Linked DNA regions of Homo sapiens. The protein of the gene in region 4 purifies or fractionates together with the protein of the main gene of each other region. This does not show direct contact. Each region holds a gene or a part of one and is shown on either strand. Other genes may lie near its edges.

The links.
Region 1: the proteins of SLC34A1 (region 4) and ATP2C1 purify together in Homo sapiens (affinity purification with mass spectrometry; one large-scale study listed by BioGRID and IntAct). This does not show direct contact.
Region 2: the proteins of SLC34A1 (region 4) and TYMS purify together in Homo sapiens (affinity purification with mass spectrometry; one large-scale study listed by BioGRID and IntAct). This does not show direct contact.
Region 3: the proteins of SLC34A1 (region 4) and DPY19L4 purify together in Homo sapiens (affinity purification with mass spectrometry; one large-scale study listed by BioGRID and IntAct). This does not show direct contact.

Annotation. Positions count from the first base shown.
Region 1 is NC_000003.12:130,948,913-130,957,751, reverse strand, and holds part of ATP2C1 (calcium-transporting ATPase type 2C member 1), read right to left. Parts: intron 3,932-8,839; coding exon 3,776-3,931; intron 2,741-3,775; coding exon 2,672-2,740; intron 1,649-2,671; coding exon 1,573-1,648; intron 1-1,572. UniProt on the Homo sapiens protein: ATP-driven pump that supplies the Golgi apparatus with Ca(2+) and Mn(2+) ions, both essential cofactors for processing and trafficking of newly synthesized proteins in the secretory pathway.
Region 2 is NC_000018.10:667,971-676,522, reverse strand, and holds the end of TYMS (thymidylate synthase), read right to left. Parts: intron 7,452-8,552; coding exon 7,350-7,451; intron 6,206-7,349; exon of another isoform or gene 5,832-6,205; coding exon 5,656-5,831; exon of another isoform or gene 5,144-5,655; coding exon 5,072-5,143; exon of another isoform or gene 3,664-5,071; coding exon 3,526-3,663; 3' UTR 2,945-3,525; downstream 1-2,944. UniProt on the Homo sapiens protein: Catalyzes the reductive methylation of 2'-deoxyuridine 5'-monophosphate (dUMP) to thymidine 5'-monophosphate (dTMP), using the cosubstrate, 5,10- methylenetetrahydrofolate (CH2H4folate) as a 1-carbon donor and reductant and contributes to the de novo mitochondrial thymidylate biosynthesis pathway.
Region 3 is NC_000008.11:94,784,061-94,792,899, reverse strand, and holds part of DPY19L4 (probable C-mannosyltransferase DPY19L4), read right to left. Parts: intron 5,007-8,839; coding exon 4,848-5,006; intron 3,155-4,847; coding exon 2,990-3,154; 3' UTR 1-2,989. UniProt on the Homo sapiens protein: Probable C-mannosyltransferase that mediates C-mannosylation of tryptophan residues on target proteins.
Region 4 is NC_000005.10:177,394,410-177,396,890, reverse strand, and holds part of SLC34A1 (sodium-dependent phosphate transport protein 2A), read right to left. Parts: intron 159-2,481; coding exon 42-158; intron 1-41.

The DNA.
Region 1 (8,839 bases), on a different chromosome or scaffold from region 4:
GTAAAATCCCGTCCCTATTAAAAATACAATAAAAAAATTAGCCAGGTGTGGTGGTGCACACCTGTAATCCCAGCTACTCGGGAGGCTGAGGCAGGGAAATCACTTGAACCCCAGGAGGTGGAGGTTACAGTCAGCCGGGATTGCGCCATTGCACTTCAGCCTGAGCAACAAGAATGAGACTCCATCTCAAATAAAAAAATTGTATTACTGACTTTGAAATACTAAACTAGCTGGAATAATTAACACGGTAAGAAAATTAAAGGAGAAAAGACTCCAAAATTAATGCAAGTGCTTAATGTGTGATAAAAACGTGACTTCAATCCAATGAATAAAGACTGGATTACAGAATTAATGGGATAATTAACTTGAGTAAAAAAGTTAAAACTCTGCCTTAAGCCATGTACTAAAATAAATTTTAAATAAAATAGTAAAATGTCAAAAATAAAAAACTATACAACAATGTTTTAATAAATGTTCTTATAAACATGAGGTTGGGAAAATCTTTAGGAACAGAACAAAACCAACTTAATTGCAGAGATTATCAATAGGAGGGTGATAACAGAATCTCAAGGAAAAGGGGATGTTTTAACCCATTTGTGTCTGAGGTTGCAATTTTTTGAATTTTTGCAACCAGACCTTGGCAATGACCTTGAGCAGTAGGATATAAATAAGTCCCACATGCTTAGCATTCCAATAATGGAACACTAGGCATAAATGGTTAATTACATATATTGTCCTCTTACCAAGTTTATTCCACATGCCTCAAAGGCAACTTAAACGGGAAAAAAAAACTTATACAACAAAAAGATTGATAATCTAGTCATATAAAAAGCTTTTATCAATCTAAGACTCAAGACACAAGAAAAGGGACAAAAGAAATCGTTGGCAGGTCATAAAATGAAATAAAAATGATCAACCCACACATGACAAAGCATTCGGTTTCCCTAATAATGAACTGTGAAATCAAATAATGAGAACTCTTTTATTTACAGTTGAAGTTAATGACAATACTTAAAGCTGGCCAAAAATTTAAAAGTTACATGGATCCCCTTTGACTAAATAATTTTATTTCTAAGAATTTTTCCTTAAAAAAGAGAGGTATTTACCAGAAGACACCACACTAAAGAAGTATTTATATGACCAAAAAAAAACCCTCAAAAAATCCTAAATGTCTAGAAGAGGTCTTCTTATATGTTTTCCCACAAAATAGAAAACTATACAACCTTTATGTTTGTTTTATGTGACCATCAATTTAATGACAAGAGTTTTATGACAGGATATGTGAAATAAAAATAGAAAAGCAGTCCATAAAACTATCGTATTACATTCTTGTTGAAGACTAGAAAGACAAATACTAAAATGTTTCAAGAAATATTTTCTGATTACAAGAATCAGAGTTCTATTTTTTCTTTGTTGAAATGAACAATGGCTACTAGTAGTCTTATAATTTTAAAAAGTATTAAACTTAATAAAAAAAAGAAAAGCCAATAAATAAAACTAGAATACCACCACCCTTCACATTCAAAAAACAAAACTCAAATAAAAATATATACATACTCACTCTTCTCTTACCTATTATACCAAAGGAGTAAAAGGAAAGTTGTTTTCCTAAGAGGTCCATGCTCTTCTGCAGAGGGGTTTTTGGTGCCTTGATAAATTGAAGAAGAGTGTCACCACAATTAGCTATATTTACTAAGCTTTATCAAGTGCCAGGGGCTTGCTAAGTGCTTGACAAAGCAATTCCTAAGTTAACCATACAACTCTCCCATAAGGTAAATAATCACCTTCACTGAGAAAACTGAGACTTAGATTTTACACAATGCCCAAGGTCACACAGTGAGGAACAGAAATTCTCTATTTTTAAAAACCTGTTTATTATTTGAAAAGGTCCGTTCTCTCTATGCTTCCTTTTGAGGAAAAATCTGTTCTCCCTCCTACCAACCACTGCAGGACTTCATTACCATCAGCTGCTCTCTCACTTGCTTTTCCAATTTTTCCCTTTTGGTATCCACAAACATGCTAGTAACCCAGGTCTTTTAATCCTCCCTCAACTGCTAACCCTCTTCTCTATTCATCCCTTCACTGCCACGCCTCTTGGAATGAGTTCCCACTTTGCATCGCATACTGGAGTTTTGGCAGGTTACCTGAGAAATCCAGAGGATTTGGGGAGAACACGACATTTGCAGAATGAAGCTTCTTTTTATAATAAGAAAGTATTTAAAATGAACTCATCTTTAATACTTTTAGCCGAGAATATCTTGTAGGTTATTTTACTTGGCAATCTTTTCCCTGCCACCCTTACTTGGAATTATGTGAAGTTGAAAAAATTTGATAGAAGACATATTCCAAGGTACAAATATACTAATTACTAATCCTTAAAATTACCACAACACTAATTTCTGAAAATAATAAGATCTACAAATAAGTGGCTATAAGCCTTTTTCTGCTATAAACAATGAGTAAAGCTCAAAATCCTTTAGAATACTAACAACATCAATTTAGACCTTTTCAATTACAGGCTTTCCAATTATGTTTCTAAACAGAGACAACTGATTTCCATTCTGAATAAAATATTGCTCTCAATAGTATATAAAATAATCCAACATTCTCTACTTACAATGAAGAATTTCAGATTTGGAACAAATACATCATTAACATATTAAGTACTCACCTCTTCTGCTTGCATCATTTTAAAAACCTCCCCAAATTCAGAATTTTCTCCTGTTCCAATGACAACACCCTAAGGGGAAAAACAGGAAAATACATTTACATCCAGATGAAATGTAAACCAAAACACATACACACACACATCCAACAACTTTCAAAGTCTTACCTACAGTGAAGATGTCTAACATACACACTCCTAAGATTTCCTCAGCAAATTTACTTTTTTATGTTCCTGTCATTAGCATTTGCCCCTTATGATTTAAACTCTGGAAACAAACATTACATTAAACGTATTGCTGGCCGGGTGCTGTGGCTCACGCCTATAATGCCAGTACTTTGGGTGGCCGAGGCGGGTGGATCACTTGAGGTCAGGAGTTCGAGATCAGCCTGGCCCACATGGTGAAATGCCATCTCTACTAAAAATACAAAAAATTAGCCAGGCATGGTGGGACATGCCTGTAATCCCTACTACACAGGAGGCTGAGGCAGGAGAATCACTTGAACCTGGAAGGTGAAGGTTGTAGTGAGCCAAGATCACGCCACTGCACTCCAGCCTGGACGACAAAGTGAGACTCCGTCTCAAAAAAAAACGTATAGCAGACTCAATTCTGAGGCCTATTTTTTGCCTATATTAGTATTTCTGAAATACAAACATGTATTATACTCAATAGGAGACATTTAATATAGTTTCTTTTTACCCCTAGTGAATGGTGTCTTTTGCACTGGTGGAGTATCAGAATTCAGGAAAGGAAGCATTTGAAATCGATCAACAGGTGAACAACATATAGTCAGATTATTATAGCCAGTATCATATTAACTAAATTAAAATTTATTTAATAATAAACACATCCATGAAAACACTGTTTCTCTCTTTAAAAAGAAACAGGTATTGAGGATTATCCATTATCTGGGAAATAGCAGAACTACGGAAATATTATACTTTGGGGACACAGATTCTCCCCAGTTTCACAAATAGATGTAATGGGTTAAGTTCAATTTTATCCTTTGTCATGTATTTGAAAAATTCCACATAAAATCAGCAAAAAATAATTGAGAAAATAGTTTCAAACAAAGGAACTGCTTTTTTCAAATCAGGAAAAAAATTTACCTTTGCTTTGCCACATCTGACCAGTGTTCCCATAAAGGCAATGTTACTTCTCGATGCAAGATCTCCATTAGTTGCAGCTGGCTGAGGAGCTGTCACCTTAGAACAAGGCGTTGTCTCACCTGTCAAGCTGGACTCATCAATGGAAAGATCCACAGCCTTAGGGAACATAAAGAATCCCAGATTCAAATTTTGTGCTACATTTAACATCTCTAGAGTTCATAACCATCATCACTTCTTCCTCAAACATCCCTTTTCCATTGATTAGCCACATCTTGTATCAAAACCATCACTCTAAAAGACCAGAATCAGTACAATCATATTTTAAAATACAATTAAGTCAACAAAATCTAAGACATGCAAAGTAGAATGCTGTACCATGAGACTAGATTAGCCTAAAATTGAAAATACAACTAGGAAAAATTTGACACTAGCTAAGACTCAATCTTCATCTAGAGAAAACTCAACTTTTCATGACAAAATATTATTTCCTAATTTTGTCAAGTACCTAAAGTTCTGGAAATATGGCTTGGCAGATTAAAACCATCGACGATGACTGAAAGTGATAAATGAATAAAGGGGAAAAATGTTACTTAGAAATCATTTCATCATTTTGGAATCAATTTTCATAAAATCATTATTGTTATACATGCCGTTTATTCCAAATTACAATTTGCAAGACTCAAAAATGTATACAAATGCTTTCATGCAGATCATAACTATCATAATATCTTCCAACTCTGCAACAGGGCTCAGTTTTGAAGGCTTCACTCCTGACACAGTATTTACCTACCCAAGCATACAGAAAAAAGAAAAAAAAAACAATTTTATGAGTATAGATACATACACACATACATACATATATACATACATACATACATACATACATACATACATACATACGAACAAGTGAGGGAGAGGACTAGGGCCAAGTAAGTCAGAAATAGTTAAGAGTTAAACAGCTTCCTCTACTGCAGTGCTCTCAAAACCTTCAATACATTAACATGAATCACCTCAACAGGAATACAGATATACAGCAAAGCTTCTGAAAGGAGGACAGCATCACATCCACTACCTCAGAACTTGTTAGAAGTTAAGAGTCCTTTGCTCCACCTCAAACACAGGGTGGAAAAAGTAAACCTAACAGACAGTATTTACAAGCCCTCCAGGTGATTCTGTTGCAAATTTCCATCCATTTTATTCCAGAAGCATTTATTCAAGGGTCCTTAGGATACTCTGTAAGAAACTAGGAATTAGTTCATGACTTTACTGATTTTACAGGCTCATTCATTCACCCAACAAACATTTACTGACTATCAGTGTTAGGCACTGAGCAAGCTCCTGGTAAGAAAACAGGATAAATTACTGCACAGTATCACTGATATTTTAGGCTGAGTCAGTATTCTCAATCAGGCCTTTCTTAACTCTCAGTTCACACTATGTACCAAGTATTCTAAATTTAAATCTTCTTTTTCTTTTCTTTTGGTGGGGGGTGAAAAGTTATAAATTACATCTTTTCAAATGGTTCACTTCTGAGCATAAAAACCTCAAATAACCTCACGTAAAATGATTATTAAAAATTGGTTCACAGAATCTTCATCTCCTCAACAAAACTGTTTTAATTTGATCAACAACATTCCTACATTCACTTAACAAATATTTATTACTGCTTACAATGTGCCAGGCCCTGTGCTTTATCATACACAGTAGGATAATCAGCAGTGAATGAAACAAAGTTTCTACCCTTGGATATTAATGGGAAAGTGATTTTAAACAAGCACGAGTATATAACATAATGCCAGGTAGAGGGAAAACAACAAACATAATAAAGATAGAGCCACATTTTAGAAGAAAACATTCCCCAAAACCAGGTAATCCTCTGCAGAGCCCTGACAGACCTGAGAGCTCCAAGGCTGGGCCATAATTAGGGAGAGTGGATTTCATGTAAAGGCAACAAAAAGTACAAAGACCTTGGGGACAGGAACATGCTTGGTGTGTTTGTGTGTTAGGCAAACATAACTGCAAAAATAACAGTTTACAATAGGTTGTTAAGTTTTAAAATATTCATCATGAAAATAAATATAACTCCAAAGAGACAAAATTGTGCTAGCATTTCCCAGAAGTTTAGATAATATGACAGTGGAATGCATTTTAGTATCAAAATAAGCTTACAAAAATTATTCTTTAAAATACAGATCAATAGTCATTTAGACTTTAAAGGATTTTGCATTTAACATTAATTGTGTATACAAACACAAACCAGTTAATAAATCTGAGTTCATTACCTTAACGCAACTGAAGATTTAAAAAACACCTGTCATGTTCAAAGGCAAGTGAATTTTTCTTTATTAAAGAAACATATTTATTTGACTTTTATTTCCACGTTAACCTTGGAACTATTTAACTTTTCACACTAACACATTTATTAGCAAGGTAAGAGAAACAAATCTTAAAATGGGCCCTTCTTCAAAGATAATGCCAATACTAAAAATCAGCTGACATTTCATTGCTTACCATCTGCTAGGCACTATGCTACATATCTATGCTAAATTATCACATTTAATCCTACTAACAACTCCTATGAGGCAAGTAATTACTATTATTATCTGTTTTACAGGCACTGAAAGGTTAAGTAACTCATCCAACGTTATAGAGGTACAACACTATGCAGATAAAATTCCAGTGTTGAAAGACTTTAACTCCAGATTCCTCTTAATTATTTAGAGGATCAATCTGCAAATTATTTCTCCTCCCCAATTTTGTAACCACTTATAGAAAAAGACAGTATAACACATAAAGCAAAGATATGTAAAAAATTATGTATTATCTGAATTACAAGTAAATTTATATAAGGTTCATTTTATTTAGCAAGCTCATATTTAATGCTTGTTACAACAGTCAGAGTTGCACGTAACTTTCCAAGATCTTAATTAGGAAAGAGACCCACTAATATTTAAAAATACTTGTAGAAATTTACAGAATTCCTTCTGTAAGAGAAGTAAAACTCATGTTTTCCCTTTGAAGACTTTTGCTTTAAATGTAAATCTTAAACATGGATAAATACTAACATGAAGTGACTAACAGAGAAGGAATTTTTTTTTTTAATCTGTTGTTTTTAAAAAGAGAAAAGCATGATTTCATGGCTCTGTCAGCAACCTAGCTCTTTGGTTTCAGCCTCAGAACAACAATCACTTAAGAGAGCCCTTGTCTGGTGGAACAGACAAGCTGATGTGGAAGAAAAAGGAGCTCAGGACCCTAATTTTTTCCTATATCATTATAAATTTGCAACTAAAACTCAAATGATCATGAAATTTGTCTAAATCTTACAATGTCCCAATCTGCAAAGATTTCAACTATCTGTTGAATACGAATACTTTCTAAGTCACAAGTTATTTTCTCTTAATAGTGATTGCAAGAGTTTTCCTAGGAAGTAGTTTTGAGGGAGTAGAGGGAAAGAAAAGGTGGAATTTAATAAATTAGGCAAGCCTATTACAGTTTAATAAAGTCACAATTTAATTCGTCTGAGAAGAAAGATATTAGAGTCATTATTCATTGCATTCATGAGAGAGGGAAAGGTAGGATAAAGTGAAATCAAAGAATCAGGCAGCCCCATGACAGCCAGCCAGAAGTTTAAGTATTAAACCCTCAGAAGACCTGTTAATGAACAAGAAAACTGATTTTCACTTTCATTCTTCTTCAAGCAGTCTGGTGGAGGTGTGAATATGCTATAAAACAGTTCAAAAATCAGAATATAAATAAGAATCAAGACGACTATATAATCCACAGTCTAAATATTTAACATGTACACAATAAAAATGATTGGAAAATTCACAAGATTATTATTCCCATAAAACACTAGAGAGAAAGAAATCAAATGCCAGTCACAAAGGTTTCCTGAAAGGCAGAAAGTACTTTTAAAAATTCAGGTTAATATGGAACAACTGGCAGCTACAAATAAGTTCTTAAGCTAAAGAACGGTTTGACATACGGTACACTGATAAGGCAATCACCTCTCGAGTCTAGAATTAAAAGCAAATCATTAAAATGCAGATTAGAAATGGATTTCTCTCCCCAGAAAACAATCTTCCAAAATATTCACCTGTAGCTGCCTGATCATGATAAAATTTCTTACTTCTGTTCTCAAAAATTAACATACCTCACTGTTTATGCAAATGAAGAAAAATGTAATTTAAAATCTTCATGTATTTAACTTACTAACACTCAAAGCCAAACCAACCAAGTGTTATGTTACGTATTACTGAAAACGATATATGAAATTAATTTTATCCCGTGGTAGATGCTTACATAAATTGCTAACTTTCTGATTCGAGTATACAGAAAGTTATTCAGAAGATACAGCTGTTTCATCTACATTGAAAATGTTCGGTACAACCACCTTCCTCAATGATCTTAGCTACATCTTCTGAATAACTTGCTGCAGCTTCTCCATCAACATCTGCTGCTTCATCTTGCACTTATATGTTACAGAGATGGCTTCTTTTCTTAAACCTCACGAACCAATCTCTGCAAGCTTCAAACTTTTCTTTGGCAGCTTCCTCACTTCTCTCGGCCTTCACAGAACTGAAGAGAGTTAGGGTCCTGCTCTGGATTAGGTTTGGTTTAAGGAAATATTGTGGCTGCTTTTATGTTTTATCGAAACCTTTCAAACTTTCTTCATATCCACAATAAGAATGTTTTACTTCTTATCATTTGTGTGTTCACTGGAATAGCACTTTTAATTTCAAGAATTTTTTCTTTGCATTCACAACTTGGCTAATTGTTTGAGGCAAGAGGCCTAGCCTTCAGCCTATCTTAGCTTTTGACATGCATTCCTCAGTAAGCTTAATCATTTCTAGCTTTTGACTTAAAGTGAAAGACATGCAATTTTTCCTTTCACTTGAACACTTAAGAGGCCACTGTAGGGTTATTAATTGGCTTAATTTCCATATTGCTGTTTCTCAGAGAACAGGAAAGCCCAAGGAGAAGGAAAGAGCAGTCGGGCAGAGCAGCAGTAGAAAACACGCAACATTTACTCATTACATTTATAGTCTTACATGAACATCGTTA
Region 2 (8,552 bases), on a different chromosome or scaffold from region 4:
CATGATGGAAGGTGAAGGGGGAACAAGCACTTCTTATGGCCAAGAGCAGGAGGAAGAGAGAGTGAGGGGGGAAGGTGCTACACACTTTTAAACAACAGATCTTGTGATAACTATCTCGAACAGCACCAAGGAACGGGTGCCAAACCATTCATGAAGGACCACTTCCCATGATCCAATCACCTCCCAGCAGGCCCTGCTGCCAACACTGGGGATTACAGTTCAACATGAGATTTGGGCAGGGACACAAATCCAAAACAAATCCAAACCATATCAGCCTGCCTGTCACAGCTGTTCAATAACAGGCGATGGAAGTCAGGCAGCAGAGCTCGGTCACTTGCCCCAAGCCTCAGAACTACAAAGTGGCTGACGCAGAACCTGAACACAGATTGACCTGATTCTAAATCCTCTGCTCTTCATCTAAATCATTTGTATAGCTGAAAGGAACCTCATTTGGTGATTTTATTTTTTGGGTGGGGAGTATGGAATGTATTTTATTGTTCTGCATCTGGGTTTGCTTCCTTAGATGTCTTGGTTCTTGGATGGAGGTGGGTGTGTCCCACCTCCCTCAGTTGTGGTCCCATGGACCTGTTCGGATTGTTTTCCAGGTACAAAGTGTACCGAGAAAGCCTCACAGTGCTAATGCTTCCTAGATGCCCAGCTGAGGCAGTGACAAAATGGCCCTCCCAACCCTACCTGCCAAAAAAACCCCAAGCCCCTGGCAGCTGCTGCAGCCATGTGAAAAAATACAAACGCTTCTTGAAAAATAGATCACAAAATGTGGTGATTTTAATCTATTCATCTGACTTTTGACCAGAGGAACCCAAATAATTCTGGATATTTACAGAGTCTGAATTGATCCCTTTTAAAGGGCACCACAAAACCTCTAGAGGGACTTCGTGTGTTCATGTCATCAAAGTCCCCACCTCACATTGCTATATTTTAGAAGAAAAGGACCTGAGGCACAGAGGTTTAGGGACTTGCCTAGAAACGCATGGTAACACAGCTAAGCCTTGGCCAACACTGTCAATTGAGTGGTACTCGCTCCTTCTGCTTTAAGTTAGCACCACGTGAATAATCTGACTTCAGGCATCATTGCCCCGATCTGATTCCCTCCTCCTAGGGTGTGTGAGTATGTTGACCACCTGCATGAGCATTTCAAGTATCCCGTGATGATCCAGCGGGCTTCCTACATGCCTCCCAAGGTAAGCTGTGGCCTGAGGGCCCCTGTAGAAGAGATGCTGCCAGCCACTGCCACGCCTGTCTCGTGAACTAGACTGTGGAGCACCAAGCTTTGACTCCTGTTTGTTTGCAATATCCACTAACAAACGGTTCTTCAGTTTGTCTGTATCAAAATCCTCAGGCCTGAGGGCCAGGGCTTGGAGGTTCAATTGCCTCTGACAAGGCTTCTGTAATACTAGCCTTTCCTCACTAGTGGAGATCTTAACATTTGCACTCCTTGTGCAAAAAAACCTGGCACCATCTAGCAAGTTAGTGACCTAAAAAGTTTGGACTACAATTGTGTGGCTGGGGCCATTTATTCTGATCATGTTCAAGAGATCATGGCTCATTTTCACCAACAGAGGTCAAACTATTATCAAAGAGTTTGATGAGTTAACTAACTCTGGCAAGTAGCCAGTAAAATATGTTCCTCTGCCCTATTATTTCCAACAGTCTCCAAACTTATTTTAAAAATATTAATTCAGGGCTGGGCATGGTGGCTTACGCCTGTAATCCCAACACTTTGGGAGGCTGAGGCAGGTGGATCATTTGAGGTCAGGTGTTTGAGACCAGCCTGGCCAACATGGTGAAACCCTGTCTCTACAAAAAATACAAAAAATTAGCCGGGCATGGTGGCAGGTGCCTGTGATCCCAGCTACATGGGAGGCTGAGGCAGGAGAATCACTTGAACCTGGGAGGTGGAGGTTGCAGTGAGCCAAGATTGCGCCACTGCACTGCAGCCTGGGCAACGGACAGTGACTCCATGTCAAAAAAAAAAAAATTAATTAATTGCCTCTGGCTTAGACGTAAAAGCATTTCTTGGAGCAGCATAAATGCATAAAATCTGTTTTTGTTCCAGGTGGTTGTTAACAGGACTCATTTTTTTGGTCTTTGATAGGATCCCGGCTACTCAACAGAAATGAAGGAGGAATCTGTAAAGAAACACCAGTATCCAGATGGTGAAGTTTGGAAGAAACTCCTTCCTGCTCAAGAAAATTAAGTGCTCAGCCCCAACAACTTTTTTCTTTCTGAAGTGAAAGGGCTTAAAATTTCTTGGAAATAGTTTTACAAAAATGGATTTAAAAAATCCTACCGATCAAGATGAGTTCAGCTAGAAGTCATACCACCCTCAGGAATCAGCTAAGTAATTATTACTTGATTCTTTTAGCAAATCAATGCACGTTATCCTACTTAATCCTTAAATAAGTTTAGATTTAACTAACCCAAAGTCCAGGAGGATGTTCTTACAAAAATAGCTATATCAAGGGCTGGCACCTAGACATTAAACTGTAATTTGAAAATAAGCAACATGTTGCATAACTTGTTGGAATAATTCCTTGTTCTGTTTAACACTTGTCATAAATTAGCAGAATAAAAATAGTCGTGCAACACCGGGGGTATCTGGTATGCAACGAAGGGAAAAATATTTCACTGATTAACCCCGAAGTGGTTTTGCATCTTTTCCTTGCTTAATCTAAGCATATTATTAGAGAAGTCACACCATGCTGAAGCTAATGAGGGCAAAATGGTAGTCCATAGATTATTTTAAAATAACCCTTTAAGGTTATAAAAGTTTAAAAAAAAAAAAAAAAAACTCTATCCTAAATGGTCATTATATTTTGAGGATAAGATGCAGTTAAAATGAGAAAAATAGGGCAAAATATATTCACTATTATTTCTAAAATATACTCTTTTAAGTAGCATCCAAACCAGAATACAGCACATGTTTACTTAAGGAGAGTTCTTTAATCTATTTTAGGAAGGAACTGAGCAGATAAGTGGCAGTACAGAATGAACAAAGCGTGGACGAATGCAGAACACTTCTTTATTATAGCAACATATAAAACAACTATAACTTTAAAGTTCATAACCACACTCTACATCATGATCGATGGTGTTACTCAGCTCCCTCAGATTTGAGGGAATAGCTTGTGAAATTCTTAAAATATTCTAAAAATATTCCAAAAATAGCTTGTGAAATTCACCAACCTTCTTTATAAGTACGTGGGATTGAAATGCACATACATGTTTTTGCTAAGAGCACATACATTTCATTCTCCTCACTTTGTTCATAACCTCAGCATTGTCAGATACCCTCAGTGAGTTAACTCAAAGCCTTTTATTATGGAAAGAACTGGCACAGTTACATTTGCCAGTGGCAACATCCTTAAAAATTAATAACTGATAGGTCACGGACAGATTTTTGACCTAGTTCCTTTTTCTTTTAGAGCAAAAAGAACTTTTACCTCGGCATCCAGCCCAACCCCTAAAGACTGACAATATCCTTCGAGCTCCTTTGAAAGCACCCTAAACAGCCATTTCCATTTTAATAGTTGGATGCGGATTGTACCCTTCAATCTGAAAGTCTTCAGCTTTGAAGTCATCAATTTTCTCAACTTTTCGAAGAATCCTGAGCTTTGGGAAAGGTCTGGGTTCTCGCTGAAGCTAAAAACAAAATAAGGCCATTATTTTGCCATAATTGTACGACCTGTTGTAATTGCTCCTCATGTCCGTGAAACAAGTACACAGGATGTGATCAACAAAGTTCTATTTTACAGGAGTATGATCCTGTCGATACCTTGCCGTAGGTTATGTAACATGATTGGAGCGCAACCAGCTGTTCTCTTGCACAGATCGAGAGTGAGGGGTATTTTGTGACATTACACAGCATCAGGAGCCTGGTGCCTCATCAGGTGTAAGTTCTTATAACCACTCTTGGCAAATTTATTAAAGACAGGAACACAGTCAATCTGTAACTCATAGTAGCTCTACGTTTACTTGAATTCCACAATCCCTAACCCATCTGTCCCTGGCAGAAAGAAGGAAAGATGACATGCATGGACAGTGAACAGAAAGGGATGAAAGCCAGGATTCCTGGGATGAACAGACAGTGGCAATTAGGATGTGAAGACAGGTCACAACCTATTACTATGTCTAAAAACGACCAGAGCAGAGAGCCAGAGAGAATAAGCCTGAAGTCACCTCCACTCAAAAGCAGCCAAACTCCCTCAAAGGAGTAACTTTTAAAACCTGGATCTAACCTGGAAGGGGCTAAAAAGTGTCTGGTTCTGAGTTTTTTTCCTTAAGGCTCATGAAGCAGATGAACTTACATTTTTATTGCCATTTCATATCAATTGTTGGCTGCTATAACTTAGGGATTTCAACAGACTTTTGAAGTTTGGACCTAAATATTGTACTTAATGTAAAATTAACAAAAAATATTTATGGCCAGGGTGGTGGCTTATGCCTGTAATTCCAGAATTTTCGGAGGCTGAGGCAGGTGGATCACTTGAAGTCAGGAGTTTGAGACTAGCCTGGCCAACATGATGAAACCCCATCTCTACTAATAATACAAAAATTAGCTGGGTGTGGTGGCATGTGCCTGTAATCCCAGCTACCTGGGAGGCTGAGGCAGAAGAATTGCTTGAACCCGGGAGGTGGAGGTTGCAGTGAGCTGAGATCGCACCACGGCACACTCCAGCCTGGCCGACAGAGAAAGACTCCATCTCAAAAAAAAAAGAAAAGGAAAAACATTTGCACTTCAATTCTCCTTCAAGTTAAAATGAGTTAAAATGCCCCCTTTTGGACAATCCCCTGGCTTGAATGTGGCTCTTCCCTCTCTGGTACTGGTGCTTAGTACCTCACAGCACCTGACATGTTAAGTGCCCATGGTTGCTGAGGCAGATGCCTGCCTTGTCCTGCCCACCTGCCCACCACTTCTCCCTAAACTGAAGCCCCACATTTGGAGCAGTCATCTTTATCTTGGACACAGCATTGAGCAGATGCCTGTTCCACAGTCAACCTTTTATCAAGAGAAGGTACCAAACCCAAAAGTATAACATCTAATTCTTACCTGAATTTTCAGTGGCTCGATGTGATTCAGGTAAATATGTGCATCTCCCAAAGTGTGTATAAAGTCACCTGGCTATAAACCCGGGGGAGAAAGCAGAACAGTATGTTAGTTTCAATTCTTTAAAACATCATTTAAAAACATTAGAATATGCAGACACCGCAAGGCTTTTTTTAAAAAAATAATTTAGTGTAGCTTTTCCATTTTTTTGTAGCAACAGCATCTTGTTATGTTGCCCAGGCTGGTATTGAACTCCAGACCTCAAGCAATTGCTCCTGTCTCAGTCTCCCAAAGTGCTGGGATTACAGGCATGAGCCACCATACCCAACCTCAGCATAGCTTTTGAGAAAATCCATAGAAGCTGTATCACAAACAACCTGTATAGATCTGTTAGTGCGTATACCACAGGGCCAGAAAACCTTCCAGAAGAGGAAGGTTTCAAAGTAAAAGCTGGTTCATTTCTTACTTACACATATCAAATTTAAAAGCTAATCAGAGACTAAACTCTGCAATTTGTTTTCCCATATTAAAGAACTGAAGAGCTCAGTGTGGTAGGCTGGCAAGTCACCCTTCCCGAGACAGCCCACCTTCAGGCCCGTGATGTGCGCAATCATGTACGTGAGCAGGGCGTAGCTGGCGATGTTGAAAGGCACACCGAGGCCCATGTCTCCCGATCTCTGGTACAGCTGGCAGGACAGCTCACTGTTCACCACATAGAACTGGCAGAGGGCATGGCATGGAGGCAGCGCCATCAGAGGAAGATCTGAGGAACCAGCAGAGGAAGATAAGGAGGGATGGTGGTTTGAAAGACCACAGCTAAAGGCAAAGTAAAACAGGAGAGAAACAGAAGCCAACTCATATGGTGGAGACCAGGAGAGAGAGCCACTGGGCTGCAGTGATGTCCATAACAGCCTCTGCAGCGATGGCACGGAGCTGAGGGAGACTATCCATCGGTGCAAGGTTTCTGCAGGTGTCCATTTACGGCTGAAGCAATGCTCTTCCATCAGAGCTGAAGGGATCTGGGCTACCTCGTGGCACCAGATTACAAATACAGCAGGAATAATTCTGTTTGCCACAGGAAACTGGTGCTTCTGGTACACCCTCCTATATTAAAAGTCTCTATTACATGGCCAGGCACAGTGGCTCATGCCTGAAATCCCAACACTGGGACGCCAGGGTGGGCAGATCACTTGAGGCCAACTTGAGTTCGAGACTAGCCTGGCCAACATAGTGAAACCCCGTCTCTGCTAAAAATACAAAAATTCGCGCGCCTGTGGTCCCAGCTCTGGGGCTGAGGAATGGGAACTCACTTGAACCTGGGAGATGGAGGTTGCCGTGAGCGGAGATCACACCACTGCACTCCAGCCTGGGCAACAGGGTGAGACTGTGTCTCAAAAAAAAAAAAAAAATAAGTCTCTATTACAGATGCAAGTATTTCACTCTAAGTACTTATGATATCCTGATAGAGTTTTGTTGTTGTTGTTGTTTTTAAATATTCAGGGTCTCACTCTGTTGCCCAGGCTGGAGTGCAATGGCGTGATCATGACTCACTACAGCCTCAAATTCCTGGGTTCAAATGATCCTCTCGCCTTGGCCTCTGGAGTTGTTGGAATTACAGGTGTGAGCCACCACACCTGGCTCTACACCCTGGTAGAGTTGAATTTTACAATATAATTGTTAAAAATGTTAGTGAGGTGGCAGCGAGCTGGAACTTCATCTGCTTCCATTTAAAATGTTAACATCTTACATGTAGTTTCTAGGCAATTTAAAACCCTTTTTGGTGTAAGAATGAGTATAAATACACAAATTAAGATCATCTGGTTGGGAGGCTGAGGCAGGCAGATCATCTGAGGTCAGGAGTTCAAGACCAGCCTGACCAACATGGTGAAACCCCGTCTCTACTAAAAATACAAAATTAGCCGGGCATGGTGGCACATGCCTGTAATCCCAGCTACTTGGGAGGCTGAGGCAGGAGAATCACTCGAACCCAGGAGGCAGAGGTTACAGTGAGCCAAGATCACGCCGTTGCATTCCAGCCTGGGCAACAGAGCAAAACTCTGTCTCAAAAAAAAAAAAAAAAAAAAAAAATCCTCTGGGCCCAACCTCATGATCTGAAGGTGAAAGTGCAGCAAAATGTGACTTGCCCAACGTCACACAATCAACCATGTGGCTGGGGGAAGTTCCCAGGGTCCTGCCTCCCTCAGGTGCCTCTGCACAAAACCAGATTGCTTCCCTCTAAGAGTATGGTTAGTATAAATGAAGACGACGGGGTTCTTTCAACCTCTTGGATTCCAAGCGCACATGATGATTCTTCTGTCGTCAGGGTTGGTTTTGATGGTGTCAATCACTCTTTGCAGTTGGTCAACTCCCTGTCCTGAATAATCTGTAGAATTGTCAAAAAGAGAGGACAGGTACATACATTAATCACACATGTCATGAGATGGCCTTAGAGGTCATCTATTACAGTCTCTTACCCAGGGTCCCCCCTTGACCCATGGCTACAAGACATCTGGTGCATCCTGCAAAGTTTGCAGATCTCGGTGGGTTGAGTTCAAGGCCCTGTCTGACTCCTGGCTCTGTCCTCTGGAGCCCTAACAAAGTCTTTTTCCTCTTCTACACAGTCCTTTGAATATTTGGTCTGTCATGGAGTCACCTCCTCCTGTTCCCCCCATAGCTAACCCTTTCCAATCTCAACAATCTTAATTTCTTCCAGTGCTCCTCGCAAACTTAGGCTCTAAACCCATCAGCGATTCTTGTCACAATTTCACTGACAAAATCTACTTTATCCTTGTCTCACAGAGAGTGTTGTATCTTATGTAGAATATAGTATTCCATATACTTTCCAACTAACAGAGGACCATGGATTCCTTTCTATCACCTCAGCAGCATGTTTCCAACACTTCCACCTAAAATTACTTTAGAGTTTAGCAGCTCAACACACGACTGACTTGGAAACATCAGGAAACCTCTGTAATGATTACACCACCTTGTACTTTGCTCCCATTTCTGGTCTCTGGATTTTAATCCCTTTCCTTCCTTCTGAGATGGAACTGGAAGCTGAGAAGTGATTTGTTAACTGAAGTGCAGAGCTTCATAATCTCCTTTGGTTAAATTTCTACCTATTAGTGTCAGACTATATTCTGGTTCAGTAGTTCTCAAAATTTTGGGAGGAAAGTCCTCTCATGGTCACTGTTCCGAAAAAGGTAACATCAAAGATTTTAAAAAGATGAACCTTGGTAGTGTAGTTCTGTAACTTGATTGTAGTGGTTACAAGAGTCTACACGTGCTAAAATTGCAAATACACACATACACAAGTGCACGTAAAACTAGCAAAATCTGACAACTCTGAGGAATGCACCAATGTGAATGTATACAGGATGTTACCCAAGATATTATCACTGGGGGAAACTGGGTAGTGTGTCCAGGGAAACTTTCTGTGCATTAAAAAAAAAAAAAAAAAAATTCCTGTGAATCTGTAAAACAA
Region 3 (8,839 bases), on a different chromosome or scaffold from region 4:
AACTTAGGAGGCTAGAGATCCCATCTCTACTTTTTTTTTCTTTTTGAGATGGAGTCTTGCTCTGTTGCCCAGGCTGGAGTGCAGCGGCATGATCTCGGCTCACCGCAAGCTCCGCCTCGCCGCTTGACGCCATTCTCCTGCTTCAGCCTCGGAGTAGCTGGGACTACAGGCGCCCGCCACCCTGCCCGGCTAATTTTTTGTATTTTCAGTAGAGACGGGGTTTCACCGTGTTAGCCAAGATGGTCTCGATCTCCTGACCTCGTGATCTGCCTGCCTCAGCCTCCCAAAGTGCTGGGATTACAGGAGTGAGCCACTGCGCCTGGCCTCCATCTCTACTTTTAACAAAGACTTGCGCCGGGCGCAGTGGCTCACGTCTGTAATCCCAGCACTTTGGGAGGCTGGGGTGAGTGGATCATCTGAGGTCAGGAGTTCGAGACCAGCCTGGCCAACATGGCGAAACCCCGTTTCTACTAAAAATACAAAAATTAGCCGTGCTTGGTGGCAGGTGCCTGTAATCCCAGCTACTCCGGAGGCTGAGGCAGGAGAATCACTTGAACCTGGGAGGCGGAGGTTGCAGCGAGCGGAGGTTGCAGTGAGCCAAGATCGCGCCATTGCACTCCAGCCTGGGAGACAAGAGTGAAACTCCATCTCAAAAAAATAAAAAATAATAATAATAATAAATTCAAGGCACTTGTATCAGTGGGTTTGCAGTATCAAGGGCAAAGAACATTTTTTATTTCTTTGAGAAATTCCTTCCACCCAAAACCCATAAATTCTTCTCCTCTCATAGTAGATCTTTATTGTCAAACCTAACAACTGTAAGTTACCTAAGTGGAATTACTTGTAGAATTGTGAATCATTTGTTCACTCTACAAATAAGTGAAGAAATAAACTAAATGCTTTCCACTTAAAGTTGTCTAGTACTATTAACTGCAGTTAAAACAGAAGCAAATAAACTTATCTGTCATATTCAATATTGTCATTTCCATAATGAAGCTTTCTTTTCCTTTTCAACTGATGCTGGATGAAAAATTCATTATTTAAAACATCCCATTAACAATTTTTCCAGATCAATTTTATTTAAAAAATAAGTTGACAGAAAGAAGCAAAAGCAACTTACTAATATGTCAAACAAAACACAAGTACCAAACCTAATTCAGCACAGGTAACATAATATAAATCAACAAAAATTCGATTAAATATTTCACACTAGATAAAAAGTAGGGTGTTCTATTTCCCCTACAAAATATGGAAGCTGACTTTTCAATTACATTGTTTTACATGCTCTAATCACAAGTACTACCATGTGACTATTCACTGTGTGCTTAGGTAACTATGGTTATATTTTCAGAAGGCTTGAAGCAAAATACTAGTGACTCACTATTCAGATGTACAGAGTCAACCTGAGGTACACTGCCTGCAACTATCTTAATATAGTTAAGAAATTACGTATAAAAGTGAAATGAGAACCACTGAAACTAATCTATCAGATATATGACATCACCATCAAACAATTCTTCAGCTCCAAAAGAGCAAAGCATCTGAGAGTTAGTCTAAGAATGCATGTACTTTAACAACACATGTATAACAGAAAATAAAGACAACGGAAAAGCTCCCTTCTAATGTAGTGTACTTTTACAACACATATATAACAGAAAATAAAGACAATGGAGAAATGCTCTCTTCTAATGTAGTAATTTAGAGTACTGAAAATGCAATTTTTGCAGCACTTTAACAAGTGAGAATTATGAAAATCTGTTCACTGAACAGGAATATAAGGAAAAACTAAACATGTATCCCAACTTATTAAAATGACACATCTATAGGCTACATCTATCCTGAATCTCTCTATAAGGCCAAATTAACTTTTCACAATTTTCTCTTAATAAATGATTAAAAATATGAAAATACTTAAAGGAACATAGCATTTAGACTGTGAAACTGTGTTGTAAATTTTATTATAGTTGTCATTTTTTCTTGATGTTGAAGACTGCATCACAGTTTCATAAATAACATTGCTTGTGTTTTATAATATATCTGTATGCAGAGGTACGTTTAACAACATCTGCATGTATCCCCAGAAATTGTTGCTAATTTTAGAACACATATTTTTATTCTGATAATGATTTAATTTTTTTACTTAGTACTTCAGTAGAAAACATGTGAATAGATTGTATGCCCCATATCAGTATTTAAAAAAAAAACCTGAACAACATTCTTTTAAATGTCCATTTAACAAAATATATGTTAACGGTTATTGTTTTATCATGATTAAATTGGTATCAAATTAATAGGCATAAGTGAAAAAACTAATCACTTACTAGTCATTTAGAAAATGCAGTAACATCATGCATTATGTATTACTAAGAAAGTTCTCACTTAACATAAGCAGTAGATGAGGAGAACAGTATCATGAAAATTCTAAATATATCTTTATGTATATCCTTAAAAATCACTTTCCTTTATATAATTTCCATTTTAATTTAAATGCCACATATCTTCAGCTAACATTTAAATTAGTTTTTATTGTAAAACTTCAGTTGTTATACATCATAAAATACCTTCAGAAACTTGCTTGAAGGTCGGAATTATTCTTTCTATTAAATAATTATATCACATTATTTATTAAATGTTATGTTTGAGAAATGTATCTGACCTTGCACATATTCAAATTCAAGATCAATATTATAATAGAATGAAGATTTTATGGGGAAAATATTGCAATCAGTAAAAGTGTTAAAGACCATGTAACGGTAAGGAAGACACCTGTCTGGAATATTGCAGAGTGGTAGATATCACATTTAATCAAAGGACAGTAATGCTTGATCTTCTATTTCCCACAGAACTCTGGATCCAGTTAACAGCAGAAGGGGGAAAGAAGCAGCAATATTTCAAATGTCCATACTCTGATCTGCAAAAGACACCGAGTAGGTAGAAGAAAACTGCATTTTACTTCAGGTAGTCTTTGAAATGAAGGCTCTGTTATTTTTCAAGACTGGAAGGATATCACAGTGTTGATTTTATATACAAAGTAGGATCTGTTCCAGTATACTCTAGTGAAATAATTCACATATGGAGAATAGTTAATTTTGACCTCATGACAAAATCGCCCATATTTTGAGTAGGTTAGCTTGTCACCTTCTTCACAAACCATCTATTAAAAGATATAAAACATAATATTAAAAAGCTTATTAAGCTTATAGCAGAAATGCAATCAATATACAAATGAGTATATTTATATGAAAAAACACATTATTGCTAAACATTGTCTATAAAACATCTCACTGTTAGCAAATAGAAGCCTTCTTCATAAGTGAGTCACCATGCCCACTATACTCCTGAACTTCTCATTGACACTGAGAAACCAGCACAAAGGTTTCCAATTTTTAAAAGATTTAATCCTAAAATTTAGAAGGCAGTGTTTCCATAATCCATTATCATCGCTCCGAAGACCTTATCATGCACCCTACCAAGGCTGAGAAATGAACATATTATATTCCTAAATATATTCACTCTTCTCGTGTAGAATTATTTAGTAAGCAAGGAAACTTTCGTGACTTAGTGCAGACCTTTACAATTTCACCGAATGATGTTCACTAAGATAGCTTAGTTAGCTTGAAGAAGTTTTTATAAAAAAAATTAAGTAATATTTTAATGGCTATGAAAGATGTCAGATAGCCAACTTTAAAAGGATGGATTAGCTTAAGTCCATGCCAGGCATGACATGAAAGGAGAAGTAAGCTGATCTTCAAAACAGCAGAAAAGTGGGTATCAGAGCAGAATAGAAAGGCTTCAGAGAGCAGATAGCAAGACAGCACCAATTACTGAAACTGTACCCGAGGCTTCATAAAATTCCATTTGTGTCACCAGTAAACCAAAGATCACAGCCACTAAGTACCAACAGAGAAATTCAAAATACATGTACCATAAAACAGAGTAAGTTTATATTACAAGATTAAGGGGTCATGAGGAAAAGATAAGTAGAAATCACAAAAAGTAATTTCTTACCTCCAAACTGATCTTGGATAAGACAAAGAGCTATGATTATTTAGGAAAAGACAGAAAAAATCTTGGCTGCAACCTGAATAGTATATCTACTACCACTTACAATGACTTACTAAACTTTTCTTATGATCCCTCACTCCCAGCTTTCTCAGGAGTCAAGAATCCATTCCAGCTAGCATTAAGTCTCAGATATACACACTGCCTTCATTGGAAGGCCATGGGGGCTGGGGGGGAAGACACATGCGCGCGCGCGTGCGTCAGTCTTAGGTGGTCTTCTTGTGGAAAACACAGCTTGGTAAAACAGCCGAAATCAATATAGAAATTAAGATACAGCCAAGTCCTAACAACTAACATGGCTTTTAATACATTCGTTTTTGTGGATAATAGGGACTCAATGTACAGGCACTGTGTTAATTTAGCATGCAATTTTTCTAGATATGAATCAAATTACAAGAAATTTCTCAACATAAGAATATAACAAGGTAACCAGTTGCTCTTTAGATTATTATAATAAAATAAAATCATCATTCAAATCAAATTATGCCATCTTTTGTTTATGAATGTTGAAACCTGAATAAGTACAGGCAATGAATAAGGAATTCCAGTATTGGTAATACCATTATTATTTTTTATTATTTTTGCAAAAATGCCCAGATTTTCTTTTGTATGTTGAAAAAATACTCCAAACTACTTTTAAGAAGCTTTCCCCATTATTACATAACTCAATTATATTCTTAGTTAAGTTCTAAAAATAAAGTTTAAAGATTATAAGTTTAAAGTCATTTTTCTAAAAAAAAAATATATATATATACATATATATAACTTTCCAAATGGTTACTTACGTGGCCATTTGCAATGTCTAATAAATCTTTAACCCTACAGCCTCTCATGGGTCCCACCTCATTGCAGATAGCATCCTCTACAATTAGGTAATTAGCTTTGTAAGATGTCAGTATTTTATAAATATCCTCAGCAGATCGCTTTGAATAGATTTGGTAGATCTGAAAGAATATAATTAAAATAAAACTGAAAGAATATAATTAAAATAAAATTTAAAGGACATTTAAAACTTCAGTAAATTGAAACTATACATCAAGCATCTACTGTGTTCTAAGTACGATTATATATGAAAAATATATTTATTTTTATAAATAAATGTAAATATTCATCTATATATCAAAACTCATGTTTGGATTATGTGGTGCTTTTTACTATAATTTTTCTGAACTTATTAGATAATAAGCTCTGGATCTTATTAGATAATAAAGCTTTTCAGTCTTTCTGAAATGTTAATATTGGATCAACTCTTGATATCCTTCAAAAAGTAGTAAAACCACAAATATTAGGCCCATAGTATCATATACTATTTGTCCTGAAAATACTGAGATTTGAAATCTAGAATGAATAAGATTCCAATCTATTTGCAGAATATCCAGTAGCTGCCTCCTACCTGTCACCATAGCTGCCTATCTAGTACCTTCAGTTCCCACGTCCACTGACATGCTAGGAATACCCACCTTCAACATTCTGTGGCACACAGAATGCCAATACATCAAGAGGAAGTGTCTCCCTCATTTCACTACACTAAATACGTTTCAGTGGGAATGGTTCTATCCTATCTAGCCTATACCTATTCATAGTTATTTACAATTTTATTTATTTTTAAGTGTTAAGAAACTGAAACATACTATTGGGGCATTAAAAAAAAACCACTTCTATGCGATTGTAACAACATTACTGATAGCCTACAGCACAGTTTCTCAACCTTGGCACTATTCACATTTTAGGCCAGATCATTCTTTGTTGGGACACAAGGGAGGATGTTCTCTGCAATGTAGATCAGCATTCCTGGTCTCTACCCACAAGATGCTCGTAGAACCCCTCTTCCAGTTATGACATTGAGACAACCAAAAATGTCTCCAGACACTGCCAAATGTCCCCTCGGGGAACAATTCTCCCAGGTTAAGAATCACTGGCCCAGGGGATTATATAAGGATTAGCCACATATTATGAATTAGAGACTCTGTGTAATTTAAATGATATGGTTGGCCAGGCGCAGTGTCTCACGCCTGTAATCCCAGCACTTTGGGAGACCCAGGGAGGCGGATCACTTGAGATCAGGAGTTTGAGGCCAGCCTGGCTAACATGGCAAAACCCCATCTCTACTAAAAATACAAAAATTAGCTGGGTGCGGTGGCATGCACCAGTAGTCCCAGCTACTCGGGAGTCTGAGGCAGGAGAATTGCTTAAACCTGGGAGATGGAGGTTGCAGTGAGCCGAGATCATGCCACTGCACTCCAGCCTTTACGAAATTCTCTAAAATTGAAAAACAGAATATTGGGAACTTAGGTTCAGTTCATCATTGCTTTCAGATATGAAGTTACCATTTAAATCCATACCGTACCAGAGTGAGACTCTATCTCAAAAAAATAAATTAATTAAAAATAAATAAATAAATAAATAAATAAATGGCCGGGCATGGTAGCTCACTCCTGTAATCCTAGCACTTTGGGAGGCAGGGGTAGGCGGATTGCCTGAGCTCAGGAGTTCAAGACCAGCCTGGGCAACATGATGAAACCCTGTCTCTACTAACATAAAAAATTAGCCAGGCGTGGTGGTGTGCACCTGTAGTCCCCGCTACTCAGAAGGTTGAGGCAGGAGAACTGTTTGAACCTGGGAGGCGGAGGCTGCAGTGAGCTGAGATTGTGCCACTGCACTCCAGCCTGAGCGAGACTCGTCAACAACAACAACAACAAAAATTAAAATTAAAAAATAAATAAATGATATGGTCTCATTTATGGAGTTCAGTTTGGATTTTAGCTTAACAACAAATTTACTCAATACCTGCTATGTGCTACATACCATAGAGAAAGACAAAGGTTTCAAAAACCATGGTTACTATTCTCATAGACAAGTTACATAAAACTTAAAACTCTAAAATGTTTAAATTAGAACCTAAATAGAACTCTGACCTAATTACAAGTAATTCTGAAATTCCATATTAGAAAAAGACCAATCAAAGAAAACAAAGTCACAGAGTTTGTTGTTTTAAATCCACAAAAAATAAAATTCAGGAATATGCTGTCTATATTCTGCCTAAGCAACTCTATCTTTTGGAGGTGCAGCAAATACTCATCAGAGATGGCTGCTGTCTCTCAAGGAAATCATTCTCAGGTAGATCTCCCCATCTCTGATCTCTCCCCTGCCTGCTTCAATCTGTTCTTTCTGCCATGACCATAATTAACTCTCCAAAGCAGATCTAATCATTCGACTGCCAGGTTTACTAAAAGTCATGTCTCTTAACTGCCTCAAGGATAAGTCTAAATTTTTCAGCATGACATTCCAGGTCTGTCAGAATTCTGCCTCATTTTCTTTCCTAGTTTCAAGACTATACAAATTCCTTGGCTCATGTTACTTTTTCAGCCTGGAATCATATATATTTCTTTTCCAAACAAGTTTCCAATCATTCTTCAAAGCCCAGATCAAGGGACTGCCTTTTATGACAACTTCTTAGACTTTTGTAGGCGGAATTGTTCGATTGTTCCTGCTTTTTTACTCCTCTTTGTACCTTGTGTGTGTCTATGTATATGTGTATGCATGCAACAACCACTTAATAGTACAGAATAATAACATAATAGCAAACTTTAAAATTTTACTGTGTTTCAGGCATTGTACATTATCTCATTTAATTCTCACAAGTAGGAGGTGAGAACTATTATTCTCACTTAATCTCGAGATTTAGTAACTCGCTTAAGGTCACGAAGCTAATACACAGCAGAGCTAGCATTTGGGTTCAGGTACTCAAATTTCTGAGTCTGCATTCTTAATCTCTATATTACTGTATTTCTTCCTTAACTTAGAATATGCTTAAAAACTCTATGAAATTATCTAAAATTGAAAAACAGAATATTGGGAACTCATGTTCAGTTGATCATTGCTTTCAGATATGAAGTTACCATTTAAATTCATACCAAACATTCAAAATAAGACATTATCTAAACTATAATTAATTAGATACCATTCTAATGTTATACTGAGTCAATAACTGCCCATTTATTAAAAAATAAATTAGTGTTTTATAAGCAATAATAGAACTTTAGCTGAGAAAGACAAAATGTAGTACCAAGACATTAATTGACAGCCTTCTTTTAAAAATTTGATTGAGGGCTGGGCACGGTGGCTCACGCCTGTATTCCCAGCACTTTGGGAAGCCAAGGCAGGTGGATCACCTGAGGTCAGGAGTTTGCCACCAGCCTGATCAACATGGTGAAACCCTGTCTCTATTAAAAAATACAAAAATTAACTGGTCATGGTGGCTGGTGCCTGTAATCCCAGCTACTCGGGAGACTGAGGCAGAAGAATCACTTGAACCCGGGAGGTGGAGGTTGCAGTGAGCCAAGATCGCACCATTGCACTCCAGCCTGGGTGACAGAGCAAGACTCTGTCTCAAAAAAATAAATAAATACAATAAAAAATAAAATAAAAATTTGATTGAGAACAATATTTTAAAAAGAACGTTAGCTGGCTGTGGTGGCAGGTGCCTGTAATTCCAGCTACTCAGGAGGCAGAGGCAGGAGAATCGCCTGAACCCAGGAAGCAGAGGTTGCAGTGAGCCGAGATTGCGCCACTGTACTCCAGCCTGGGTGAATTAAAAAAATGTTAGCCGGCTGTGGTGGTGAGTGCCTATAATCCTAGCTACTCAGGAGGCTGAGGCAGGAGAATCGCTTGGAGGCAGGAGAATCGCTTGAACCCAGGAAGCGGAGGTTGCAGTGAGCTGAGATTGCACAACTGTATTCCAGCCTGGGTAAAATATTACACATTAGGTCCCTTGATA
Region 4 (2,481 bases):
AGCCCTGGCCCACCCCACTCCACCTCTACATGGGCACTCACCGATGAGTGGGGTGATGGCCGAGGTGAACACAGAACTGCTCTGGACCACGAAGGTCATGCTGGCGCCCACCACCATGGCAAAGTAGCCTGTGACCCAGGTGAAGGGGGCAGGGAAGTCTGCAAGGAAACCGCATCCCAGCAGGCTGGGGTCAGAGCGGGGACATTGGGAGAGCAGACCTCCGCGGGGGCACTGGGAGAGCGGACCTCCGCGGGGGCACTGGGAGAGCGGATCTCCGCGGGGGCACTGGGAGAGAGGACCTCCGCGGGGGCACTGGGAGAGAGGACCTCCGCGGGGGCACTGGGAGAGCGGACCTCCGCGGGGGCACTGGGAGAGAGGACCTCCGCGGGGGCACTGGGAGAGAGGACCTCCGCGGGGGCACTGGGAGAGCGGACCTCCGCGGGGGCACTGGGAGAGCGGATCTCCGCGGGGGCACTGGGAGAGACGACCTCCATGGGGGTTTGCTCCCACTGCAGTTGCTTCCACTTGGCCTCTTTGCTCCTGGATTGAAGGCCTTTCTCAGCCTGGCTCCGTCAGGCAACTGTGCCTTTGATGGGGCTGTTCCCTCTGCTGGGAATATCCTACTCAGCATCTGAATATTCATCCTCAGACTCAGCATGGATGTCACTTCCTCTGGAAAGCCTTCCCTGACCCCCTGCTCTGGAGCAGACTTTTTCTCCCTTCTCTGAGCTCCCACAGCCCCATGATACCCCTTATTCTAGTACTTGTCATGCAGCCCCTCCCAGTGCATGAAGTTTAAAATGAAAACCAAGGCTGGGCAAGGTGGCTCACACCTATAATCCCAGCACTTTGGGATGCTGAGTTGGGTGGATCACCTGAGGCTGGGAGTTCGAGACTAGCCTGACCAACATAGTGAGAGCCCATCTCTATAAAAAAAATTTATGGTTAATAGGAAGAGGCTGGGCATGGTGGCTCACACTTGTAATCCCAGCACTTTGGGAGGCCAAGGCGAGAGGTTCACTTGAGGCCAGGTATTCAAGACCAGCCTAGCCAACATGGCAAAACCCTGTCTCTACTAAAAATACAAAAATTAGCTGAGTGTGGCGGTGCACACCTGTAATCCCAGTTTACTCAGGAGACTGAAGTGGGAGGATCACTTGAACCTGGGAGGCAGAGGTTGCAGTGAGCTGAGATTGCACCACTGCACTCCAGCCTGGGTGACAAAGTAAGACTCTGTCTCAAAAAACAAAAAAGGGAAAATGAAAATCAAATGGTGTTGCTCCCTTACCCCAAGTCTTCTGAGTGCTCATGTTACCCTCAATAAAGTCCAGGCTCTGAGCAGAGCCTGGAGACCCCATGCTCTGGCCCCTTCCGTGCCACCTCACTGACCCCACTCAGGCAATCCCTTACCCTGCTCCTGCCAGCTACTGGCCACCCTTCTGTGCCACGGACCTGCCATGCTGGTTCCTGCCTCTGAGCCTTTGCACATACTGTTCCTCCACCCAGAGTGCTCTTCATCCGCATCGTGGCTACTTGTGTCTGTTCAAATGCCAACTGCACTGAGCGGCCTCAAACAGCGCATTGGAAACCGTCTCTTCCACACCCTACTGCACTGCCATTTTTGCTATGTCCTTGGCAGGTACCTCTCTCTGAATTTATCCCCCTAATTCATTTTCCTTCCTATTCCTAATTCATTTTCTTTTTCTATTTTTATTTATTTATTTATTTTTGAACTCTGTTGCACAGGTCGGAGTGCAGTGGTGCCATCATAGCTCACTGCGGCCTCAACCTGCTAGGCTCAAGCGATTCTCCCACTCAGCCTCCTGGGTACCTGGGACTATAGGAGCACACCACCATGCCCAGCTAATTTTAAAATTTTTTGTAAAGACAAAAGTCTCGGCCGGGCACGGTGGCTCATGCCTGTAATCCTAGCACTTTGAGAGGCTGAGGCGGGTGGATCATCAGGTGAGGAGTTTGAGACCAGCCTGGCCAACATGGTGAAACCCTGTCTCGACTAAAAATACAAAAAATTAGCCGGGTGTTGTGGCCGGCACCTGTAATCCTAGCTACTCGAGAGGCTGAGGCAGGAGAATCACTTGAACCCTGGAGGTGGAGGTTGCAGTGAGCCAAGATCATGCCATTGCACTCCAGCCTGGGCAATAAGAGTGAAATTGTCTCAAAAAAAAAAAAAAAAAAAAAAAAGACAAAGTCTCACTATGTTGCCCAAGCTGGTCTTGGACTCCTGGGCTCAAGTGATCCTGCTGCTTCAGCCTCCCAAAGTGCTGGATTTACAGGTGTGAGCCATTTGCCAATCTCATGTATTTTTCATTGCTTTCCTCCCCCTGCTGGGCTGTGAGCCCCTCAGGGCAGGACCCAACTCTGTTTGTCTCACCTCTGTATACCTGGCACTACACCTCCCTTGTCACACAATGGGGGCTTAAGTACTCTTTGTTGATTGAATCAAACAATGGTCCTTGAGCA